Regions from separate parts of the Homo sapiens genome. Here region 1 is linked to region 2. The links come from fine-mapping of genetic effects on gene expression. A gene starts in region 2. The other region holds a variant in brackets. All regions are shown on one strand. Distances are between the middles of the regions.

The links. PIP is the estimated chance that this variant, and not a neighbour inherited with it, causes the effect. A credible set is the group of variants that fine-mapping cannot tell apart.
Region 1: its variant is the best candidate, but not a certain one, in a credible set for the expression of INTS13 in whole blood (INTERVAL, PIP 0.86).

What each region holds. Positions count from the first base shown.
Region 1 is chr12:26,910,279-26,915,278 of GRCh38, reverse strand. It overlaps INTS13 (integrator complex subunit 13), which reads left to right. Exons shown (of 17, transcript NM_018164.3): 12 at 701-871; 13 at 1,151-1,305; 14 at 1,592-1,822; 15 at 3,962-4,101. Among named protein-coding and RNA genes, the nearest start is that of INTS13, 25 kb to the left of the region's middle. The variant AG/G (reference allele first, on the strand shown) is at 2,547.
Region 2 is chr12:26,935,296-26,940,792 of GRCh38, reverse strand. It overlaps INTS13 (integrator complex subunit 13), which reads left to right and starts at 2,812. Exons shown (of 17, transcript NM_018164.3): 1 at 2,812-2,997; 2 at 3,979-4,214. The coding sequence starts at 3,990. FGFR1OP2 (FGFR1 oncogene partner 2) reads right to left here and starts at 2,323. Exons shown (of 7, transcript NM_015633.3): 1 at 2,083-2,323. RefSeq lists a silencer at 1,890-1,959 and enhancers at 1,489-1,997, 2,220-2,269, 1,998-2,507.

The DNA.
Region 1 (5,000 bases), 25 kb after region 2:
TTGACATGTTTATGTTATGTCAAGGTAGTTTTTTTGTTTGTTTGTTTGTTTTGAGACAGAGTTTCGCTCTTGTTGCCCAGGTTAGAGTGCAGTGGCGCAATCTTGGCTCACTGCAACCTCTGCCTCCTGGGTTTAGGCGATTCTCCTGCCTCAGCTTCCCGAGTAGCTAAGATTATAGGCGCCTGCCACCATGCCCAGCTAATTTTTGTATTTTAGTAAAGATGGGGTTTCACCATGTTGGCCAGGCTGGTCTCGAACTCCTGACCTCAGGTGATCCACCTGTCTTGGCCTCCTGAAGTGTTGGGATTACAGGTGTGAGCCACCGTGCCCAACCTCAAGGTAGTTTTTAAATAAGCAAATGGGTCTTCTAATGTGATTAACTGACTCTTTTATCTGTGTGTGATAGAAAAGTTAAATTACAGAAGGGGAAAAAAAGTGTTCCTTGGTTTTTACAAAAGGTGGGGAAAACATACCATGAATGCATTTATGTTTGAGGCTTTCTTCATTTTCATCATATAAAGGCTGATAGGTTTCAAGTTCAGAAAGGATAAAAAAGTAGTGGAGTTAAGGGATACTGTTAGAAAAAATGTTTTGTTGCACATCACAGGACAGAAGACATCAGGGAAACAGACTAGTACATGTAATCCATACTGAAACATTAGACATAGTTTCTAATTTTATCTTATTTGGTTATCATTAGGATTTTGGTGAATTTATGAGGGAAAACAGATTAACTCCTTTTCTAGACCCCAGATATAAAATCGATGGAAGTCTTGAGGTCCCTTTGGAACGAGCAAAAGATCAGTTAGAAAAACATACCCGTTACTGGCCTATGATCATTTCACAAACCACCATTTTTAACATGCAAGCGGTAAGTGTTAAGTAGCTTCAACTTTTCTTATAGATTAGTTATATATTCTTTATAGAAATCAATTAGACAATTTGTAATTTATACCATTTCTTAAGCAAAGAATGAAATATATGAGCTTGCTAAAGTTAAAGAATTAATAATTAAAAATTGAAGTGATAGTTATAGATTCCTTCACCATGATAATCTTTAAAATCCTTTCGAAAATCAAGTTCTGCCTAGATGTTTTGATATTTATTTTTCAAGACAGATTTTCTTTTTTCTTTAAAAAAAATCTAACAGGTAGTTCCATTAGCCAGTGTTATTGTGAAAGAATCTCTGACAGAAGAAGATGTGTTAAACTGTCAAAAAACAATATACAACTTAGTTGATATGGAAAGAAAAAATGATCCTCTACCTATTTCCACAGTTGGTACAAGAGGAAAGGGCCCTAAAAGGTACATTTTTTTTTCTTTCTTACTTTATAGATCACATTTACTTGATACATATTGTTTCTCAAGATAACTTATTCCATATGTAAATTCTATTTGAGGACATGTTTATATATATATTTGAGATGAAATAATACAAAATCATAGAAATGGATATATTGTAGCCTAGAATTTCACTATTAAGTACCAAGTAAGAGGAAGGAAGTCCACATTTCATTATTTGTTTTTACTTTACCACTAGAAAGTGACACTTCAATATTATTTAAAGAGTATTTCCAAATCTTTGCTGCAGAGATGAACAATACCGTATCATGTGGAATGAATTAGAAACCCTTGTCAGAGCCCATATCAACAACTCAGAGAAACATCAAAGAGTCTTGGAATGTCTGATGGCATGCAGGAGCAAACCCCCAGAAGAGGAAGAACGAAAGAAACGAGGAAGAAAGAGGGAAGACAAAGAGGACAAGTCAGAGAAAGCAGTGAAAGATTATGAACAGGAAAAGTCTTGGCAAGACTCAGAGAGGTGACTTCCTGGCATTGATATAGCACCATGGTGCCTTTTGTTATATCACATTCTGCATAGAACACTTTCATACATTCAAACCTGATTTAATAGTAGTTCATTTAATACATGTTTATTCATTTTCATTACTGTAATTTTATCATTCTTAAAATCTAGAGGATCTTTCTTGGGCACAAAAAAGTATGAATTTTTACTGTTGGGGCAAAGTTAGTGTTAGTTTTTCCTAATTAACTTCTGAAAATCATAATGCATGATGTTTGGTATCAGTATGTGCTTTATGTGTTGTGAACTTCACAGACATAATTTTATTCCTCTGTTCACTAAATATTTACTGAATGCTTATGATGTGCCAGGCATTTGGCACAAGATCCCTACCCTTGAAGAACATACAGTGTGATGCTAGAGACAGACAAATTAGTGATTGCAGGCTGGGTGCAGTGGTTCACACCTGTAATCCCAGCACTTTGGGAGGCCGAGGCGGGTGGATCACTTGAGGTCAGGAGTTTGAGACCAGCCTGGCCAACATGGCAAAATCCTGTCTCTACTTAAAAAAATACAAAAATCAGCTGGGTATGGGGGTGCATGCCTGTAATCTCAGCTACTCAAGGGGCTGAGGCACGAGAATCACGTGAACCTGGGAGGCAGAGGTTGCTGTGAGCCGAGATTCCTCCACTGCACTCCAGCCTGGGCAATAGAGTAAGACTTTGTCTCAAAAAAAAAAAAA[AG/G]TGATTGCAGCAAAGTGTGGAAGGTGCTATTATAAAAATAGGCATAGGATGTCCTTGGAAGCACAGAAGAAGGGCATACAGTCTATTCTGAAAATGTTTCTTAATAGTATACTCTTTTCCTTTAGTTTGTGATTTATATTATGATGTCAGCGTTAAATCTGAAAAACATAAAAGTAATAAAGGCTTATAAATAGAAATAGCGTATCCTCTGGCTATATCCTCTATCCACTTGCCAGAAATCAGACCAACACCAGGTCACTTTTTTTAAAATTAATTAATTTTTATTTATTTTTTTGAGACAGAGTCTCGCTCTATCACCCAGGCTGGAATGCAGTGGCATGATCTCGACTCACTGCAGCCTCTGCCTCCTGGGTTCAAGTGATTCTCATGCCTTAGCCTCTCAGGTAGCTGGGATTATAGGTATGTGCCACCATGCCTGGCCAATTTTTTGTATTTGTAGTAGAGATGGAGTTTCACCATGTTGCCCAGGCTGGTCTCGATCTCCTGACCTCAGGCGATCTGCCCATCTTGGTCTCCCAAAGTGCTTGGGATTACAGGCATGAGCCACTGCGACTGACGAAAAACACATCTTTTTATGATGGAAAATTTCAAACATATGTAGCAAAAGAACAGATAGTTACTCATCATCTACCTTCAATGATTAACAATTCATGGCAGATCTCATTTCATATATATCTTCATCCACTACCTTTACCACTACACCCATAGGAATATTTTGAAGCTAATTCTGGAAATCCTGTAATTGTATCCATTAATAATAGAATACTTTTATTCTCTTTGACTTTAGAAGCTCATGTTTTCCTTAGGGCTGCTGAGCTTCTGAAACACTACTGGCTCACTGTAAGAGGGAAAAAGTACTATCATTTAGGTCCCACTGAGCTTCAAGTACACTCTTGTATATTTTGCAAGTGTTTTTGTTCTCTGATGAAACTCTAAAAGTTTAGAGTTAAGTTTCTGATTTGCAGAACATAAATACATCTACACAATACATAGACTAGAGAATAAATGGGAATAAACTTATTAATCTTATTTGTAATTTGAAATTCAGTGTTATTTTGTTCCTATCTTTAAAAATCAGAATTGTGCAATTTCTTCTGAAGATCACATCATTTCCTACCTTTTAAATTTTAATTTAAGTATCTTCTTTTTTTTTATATTTTACAGCTAATTCCTGAATCATTGCATTATTATTATGAAGGAAAAGGGAAACTTGTATTTAATTCATTAATTTCTGTTACCTGGTTTTAGATTGAGATTTTTGATTAGTCCCTAGGTTTATTTTATGAGATTAGCCATCTTTTATAAAGGTTGATATGCAAAGTTAGTTTAATTATTAGACCATTAGACTTCTAAAAATTTGAACTTTACATTTCATTATTTGTCCCTCTAAAAGATTAAAAGGAATCTTAGAGCGTGGAAAAGAAGAATTGGCTGAAGCTGAGATTATAAAAGATTCGCCTGATTCCCCAGAACCTCCAAACAAAAAACCCCTTGTTGAAATGGATGAAACTCCACAAGTGGAAAAATCAAAAGGTAAGGTACAGCTGTGGTAACTAGGTTTATAAAAAGTTTTCCAGGCCGGGTGTGGTGGCTTACCCCTGTAATCCCAGCACTTTGGGAGGCTGAGGCAAGCAGATCACCTGAGGTCAGGAATTCAAGACCAGCCTGGCCAGCATGGTGAAACCCCACCTCTAATAAAAATACAAAATTAGGCGGGCATGGTGACACACACCTGTAATCCCAGCTACTTGGGAGGCTGAGGCTAGAGAGTCGCTTGCACCTGGGAGGCGGAGGTTGCAGTGAGCCAAGATCGCACCATTGCACTTCAGCCTGGGCGACAGAGCAAGACTCTGTTTCAGAAAAAAAAAAAATTTTCCAATGAAGCTCTGTTTTGTACAGTGTTATTTAATATTGTTGTGTATGTGAGGAAGAGTTCTTAAGTATTTGTGGGTGTTGTTTAGGACATTCTCTGTTTACAACCTGTATTAGTCCAGTCTTATGCTGCTAATAAAGATAAAAATACCCAAGACTGGGTAATTTTTAAAGGAAAGAGGTTTAATTGACTCACAGTTCCAGCATGGCTGGGAGGCCTCAGGAAACTTACAGGCATGGCAGAAGGAGAAGCAAACATGTCCTTCTTCACATGGCAGCAGCCAGGGGAAGGGCAGAGCAAAGGGAGAGGAAGCCCCTTATAAAACTATCAGATCTAGTGAGAACTCACTCACTATCACGAGAACAGCATGGAAATTTGGGTGGGGACACAGCCAAACCGTATCACAGCCTTAGAGAATACAGGCAGTAAATATATTTGTCAGTGTTAAAAACAAAAACAAGTAGTGTTATACTTTCATTAATGAAGCCTTTGGAAAATAAGCATATAAAGTTTGTGTTTTAAGAAATTTTAAATATGTAAACTTGAATCTGTTTATGTT
Region 2 (5,497 bases):
CATTTTAATTAGGCATCACATTAATTGTAAGATCAATGAATGTTTACTGATTGGACACTTCTGTTTCCCTTATCTGCAAATCCACTACTCCTACCACTACATCTACACAGAAATATTGTGGCTACTGATACACCACAGATCTGTCTTTAAATGTCAACAATCTAGTTTAAATTTTTTCATGTTCAGGTATGTGTCTCTAATATTAATTAGTACATAATATGAACTGACCCATATGGAAATAAAAAAACCAAAAGGTATAGTTATGGTTTTCATATAAACTTATAATCTTATGAATGCAAGAAAGAACGCATATAAATTACATATAAAAATAAGCATTTATAAAGGCACATCGCTGTATGTGAAAGCAAAGAAAATTTTCACTGTCCTTGAAAATAGTGGAATGAATACATGTTTGGAACTGTATAAAGACACTTTCTGAAGAAAATTAATTTTTAAACTTGGAAGAAAGATTTTGGAAGTAATGACACTGGAGGATTTTTTTAAAATTACACGTTCCCTTAGAATTGTGGCTGAATATAAGTTTCACATACATATGTTCAAAGAGTTGTGACAGTTCAAGAAGGAACTAACCTAATCTAAACCAGTTATTTCTAACCTACAGGCTAAGGAGTCAGTAGAAGAGTTGCCTGAATGCACATACTCCAAGCACTGTCTGTAGTCTAAAACATTTCTGCTCCATTTCTCAAATATAAATAGATACTGTAAAAATAAAATACAAAATCATTTAAAAGCATAGTAGTTTTCTGTCATTATACATAATTTCAACCAACAATTACTAAAAGTCCAATTGCATGTGTATTAGAAGTACAGGGTTTCTCATAATCAAAATAGGTCGGGACCTTTAAGCTAATGTACAGAGTTCCTTCTGGCCCAAAATTCTATGATTTTAAAGGATGAAGAACTCTTACGGTGAATTCCTTAGAACTATTCCATTTCAATAAACATACATATGTATATATAAATAATGCTTGCTATGTGCCAAGTACTGGACTTTTTCTCAGAGATGAGTAAGACATGATTCCAGACAGACCCAGGTTCAAATTGGCAGGAGAGACAGAAACAAATAATACAACCTAATAAATACTGCAGAAGAAAAGTTTCAAATGCGTTGGGAGCACAGCGGTATCAATGTCACCTGGGGGAGTCTGAGAAGACAATGATTTATGAATTGGGTTTTGACAGGTGGTAAAATAGAGGAACAGTAAACATCCTAGACATCCGCACGTACAAAAGTACAGAGCTGTCAAAGCGCATGGCATGTTTGGGGAAATAGCCAGTATAGTCTTGTATGGTAGGATATTAAAGCAGGACTAAAAGGTAAAATGGATTGGGGCAGACTGTAAAAGATCCTGAATGATGATGTGCTTAACAATTAGGATTTGATGCTGTCAGCAATACGGTTACTAAAAAGTTTAAGGAAAGGACAGAGATAAATATGTATTTCAGAATAACTCTATGGAAGGATTATAGTAGGGAAACCAGTGGAGGGCGGGGGGCAGAGGGGGCAACCGCACTAATTCTGGCGAAAAAAAAAATAATACAGTGCAGTGTTAAGTGGAAATGAAGAACCAATGATGATTCCTGGTTTTCTAGTTCGGATAGCAGGACAGATACTGGAACCATTATCAGAGATGGGATAGAGAAGAAAGGCAGGAAGAGAACCAGAAAAGAGTAATACCCCTTGGAGAGCAGTTTCAAGAAACAAGTTATCTTCATTAAACGCTGCAAACAGGTGACTGAAAGGGTCCCCCGTCCGGTGGTGAACTCGCAGGTGGGTAAGGCAGGATGAAAGCAGATACGGAAGGTGTGTCCACAGGGTTAGAGCCAAGGCTTTTCATTGAACTTTCCGCACCGCATCTCCATTAAGAGGAGCTCGGAGTCGGGGGGCGCGGAGAGGAAGTCCGGCTCCCAGGAGCAGGGAGCCCGCGGCGGGAAGCGGACAGGGCCGGGCGCCGGTGGTTCAAGAGGCGCAAGGCACCGGCCCCGGCGAAGGACTGCCCCGGCAAAGGACGCCTCCGACTCGCCCACCCCTGCTCCCGTCCCTGGATTTAGTCCACTTACTCTGCTCTTAGTCCCTCGCAGCCTTCAGCTGTGGCGATGCGGACTCAAACCCTCTACCAACCGGGACCTATGCACTCAAGGGAAGAGACTCCGCGCCCCCCTAATCCGCCTCCTCAGCAAGCAGACGCAGAATCGGACGGAGGCAGCGGACGGAAGGCCGGGAAGCCAGTGGCGTTCAACGCCATCACCGGCGGGGTAGACACCTCCGCCGACCGCCTCCGACCGGCGCTCCCGGAGAACTCCAGCCTCGCGAGATTTCTTTCCTCGCGTTACTGTGGGGCAGAACCGACCACTCTCCGCTTTGCCCCAGAAGGCAGGGCGGGGCCCTTCTATGTCCCTCCCTATTCCTCCCTTCCCAGGCTTTCGCTCGGCCTCTCGCAAAGTCTCGCGAGTTTTTCCAGGGGAAACCGGCCTGGGTGGAGAGACAGAGAAGGGGAGACCGGGTGGGTGGGTCGTACGCTTAGGGGGCCGTGGTTGGTACTTCGCTGTTGGGGAGGCTTTCAGGTCGCCCAGATCCTGCTTCCCAATGGGTGACTGGGAAAATTAGCGGGTGGAAAATCTCGAGGGGTGGAGGCTTTTTTTTTCCTCCTTGGCCCCGCCCTCTTCCTGTTCGGCGACTGGGACGCCTGGCCCTACGAGGGGGAAGGGAGGCTTGGCCGGGCTATCGGAGAGCGCTGTGCGCACGCGCGAGCCCGAGTGCGTGTGTGTGTGTGCACGCGCACGCGCGCTCCTGCTCTTAGGAAGCCTGGGAAGGACCGGTGTGCTAGGAGATGATCGGGGAAAGCATAGTCCCCTGTCTGTGGCACCAGACACTCCCGACTGTGCGCTGACTCTCCCCGCCCAGCCAGCAGCCTTTTCCAGAGAGGCTGTGGTCCATAGCCTCTGTTCGTTTTCACTGCAGGACCAGGCACGAAAGTAAGCGAACCTCGATCCTGAGGTCTTCCCTATCCACTCACCTTGTATTTTCCACCCCCCACCCTCCAGCAAAGTGGGTCTAGAAGGTTTCTCAAAGAGAGTTTTGCATGAAGGGGAGATGCGTCTTGAAAGCAAGAGGTGAAAATAGCTGGATCGTAAGAAATCAGTTCGTTTTGATTTAACACTTTGGCTTTGCTTGCCATGTGCTTTTCGAATGTGGATTGTCTATTCAGTATAAGATTTTGTTAGCGAAGCAGGGGAGTACCGTATGCTCTGTTTTAATAAGAAAAAGTTTTAAAAGTTTTAAATTTCCTTCTACACACCAGTGTGATGGTAACAACTAAGTTTTTCTGCTCTACCTGGTAAATTACTGTGATGTTTCAAAAGCTAAGGGGAGAGTGTGAAGTTGGGGTCCTTATCCTAAGGCGAAGACCTGATGTGCGGTTATCTTAGGAGATGTTTATCTTTGTTTTGGCCTTTTCTTTTGCTGTCACTCCTCTTTCCTGTTAATTCCGCACCCCTACCCGCCAGTCCCCCTTCAAACGTTTTTCTTGGAGGGAAGTGCAAAAATGCTGGCTTGGGGTTTATATGTGACTAATGTCAATTAGCAAGGATCATAAAGTTGTATTTCAAGAGTCTTTGTCACTTATGTTTCGTATATGTAAGGGAATCAAATACAATTAAATGTCAAAATGTTTCCCTCTGACAATTTTAAGTTCATTTTAAAAGCAAAACCAAAAATGCATGCACTGGTATTTTTGTCTGGGCCTGGTAGAGTGACAGCCTAATATGGTGTATTGATACCCTTGCTTTCTGGTCATGACCTCATTAAACTGTCCTTTGTCGGACAGATTTCTTTGAACATATTATTCATGTTCCCTACCAAGTCTTCTTGAGGGAAAGACAATCTTCTTGAGAAAATTAGAAAAAATGTAAGATGTTATGTACAAATATTTGGCTAATATGTTTTTCCCCTTACAGGTTAAAACAAAATGAAGATTTTTTCTGAATCTCATAAAACAGTGTTTGTTGTGGATCACTGCCCTTATATGGCAGAATCTTGCAGGCAGCATGTCGAGTTTGATATGCTGGTGAAGAATAGAACCCAAGGAATCATTCCTTTGGCCCCCATATCTAAATCATTGTGGACTTGCTCAGTAGAATCTTCCATGGAATATTGTAGAATAATGTATGATATATTTCCTTTCAAAAAGCTGGTGAGTGTGAAGTACAAACAAAATCATGATTTTGGGGATGTACTTAACTGCATAAATGAATTTTTATATGAATTTGCTATAGATAATGACTGTGTGTTTATTACTTAAAAATGTGGTACATAACGCTGCCCTTTGGGATTAATATATAATGGATATTTAATTGGGGCCAGTAATAATAACAGCTAACAATTATTGAGCACTTTACATGTGCCAGACATATTTCAAAGTGCTTCATATTTATTAATTTCCGTAATTCTCATAACAGTCATGTTAGGTAGGAACTGTAGTTATTGAAGCAATATTCAAAGTATGTAACAACCAGTATAGAACACAGACTGACCATTGAGAGCTGCTGTCAAACTGTGCTGGCATGTAGCAGCTGACTGTCAGTCTTGTTTGTTGCTTCCCTGTTGCAGATCCGGAAACTGAGGTAAAGAGAAGAAACTTGTCCTGAGTCACATAGTTACGTAGAGGCAGAGCCAGAATTTGAACCTAAGCTGGCTAGCTGCTTGCAATTTTAGCAAATATATACTAAACTGCTGTATTGTTTGGCCATATTAGAAAGAAATACTTTTAAGAATGCTAAGTGGATATGGTTTATCAGTAAGAAGAGAAATGGATGATTGACAGAAATTACAGGTATTAAAGTTTAATCTTAGATTTCAGTATCTTAAATGTCTTATTTTGGGAAAGTCATTTGTTTAGCCACAAGTGGAAGACTTGCTTTCTGTCTTACTCGAAGCGCTGGGACCTAGCCAATTCTTAGACTGAGGAAGGTAGGGCAGTAGAGTAAAGGTGAACATAGTCTGATATTATACATTCACATATATTCCAAATTAAAATATAAGCCCTTCTTAAAATTTGTGTGCATTCTGTGTGTGATAAAAATATATAATGAGAGGGAATGTAACTGATTTGGAGCGCAGGCTTCGGTTCAGACCTTGGCGTGGTTAACTACTAGCTGTGTGACTTTGATCATATTTCTTAATCTCTCCAAGCCTCAGTTTCCTCCCGTGTAAGTATAACACTTACTTCCTCGATGTAAGCTTTAAAAGAGATAAATCTACGTAAAGTGACTTGTAAAATATATCCCTGTCAGATAAGCCTTGGAAGAGAAGACCAATTATCAAACTTCTTGGGGGAGGAAGGAAAACTGGTATTTCATCGATATATAGGGAAAAAGATCATAGATTAGATCGTGTTGTCCAGAGTAAAGAAAGAAATCTAACCCTCTAGCCAAAAAGGAACATGGGTCAGAATCATCATTTGATAAGTTTTCCAAA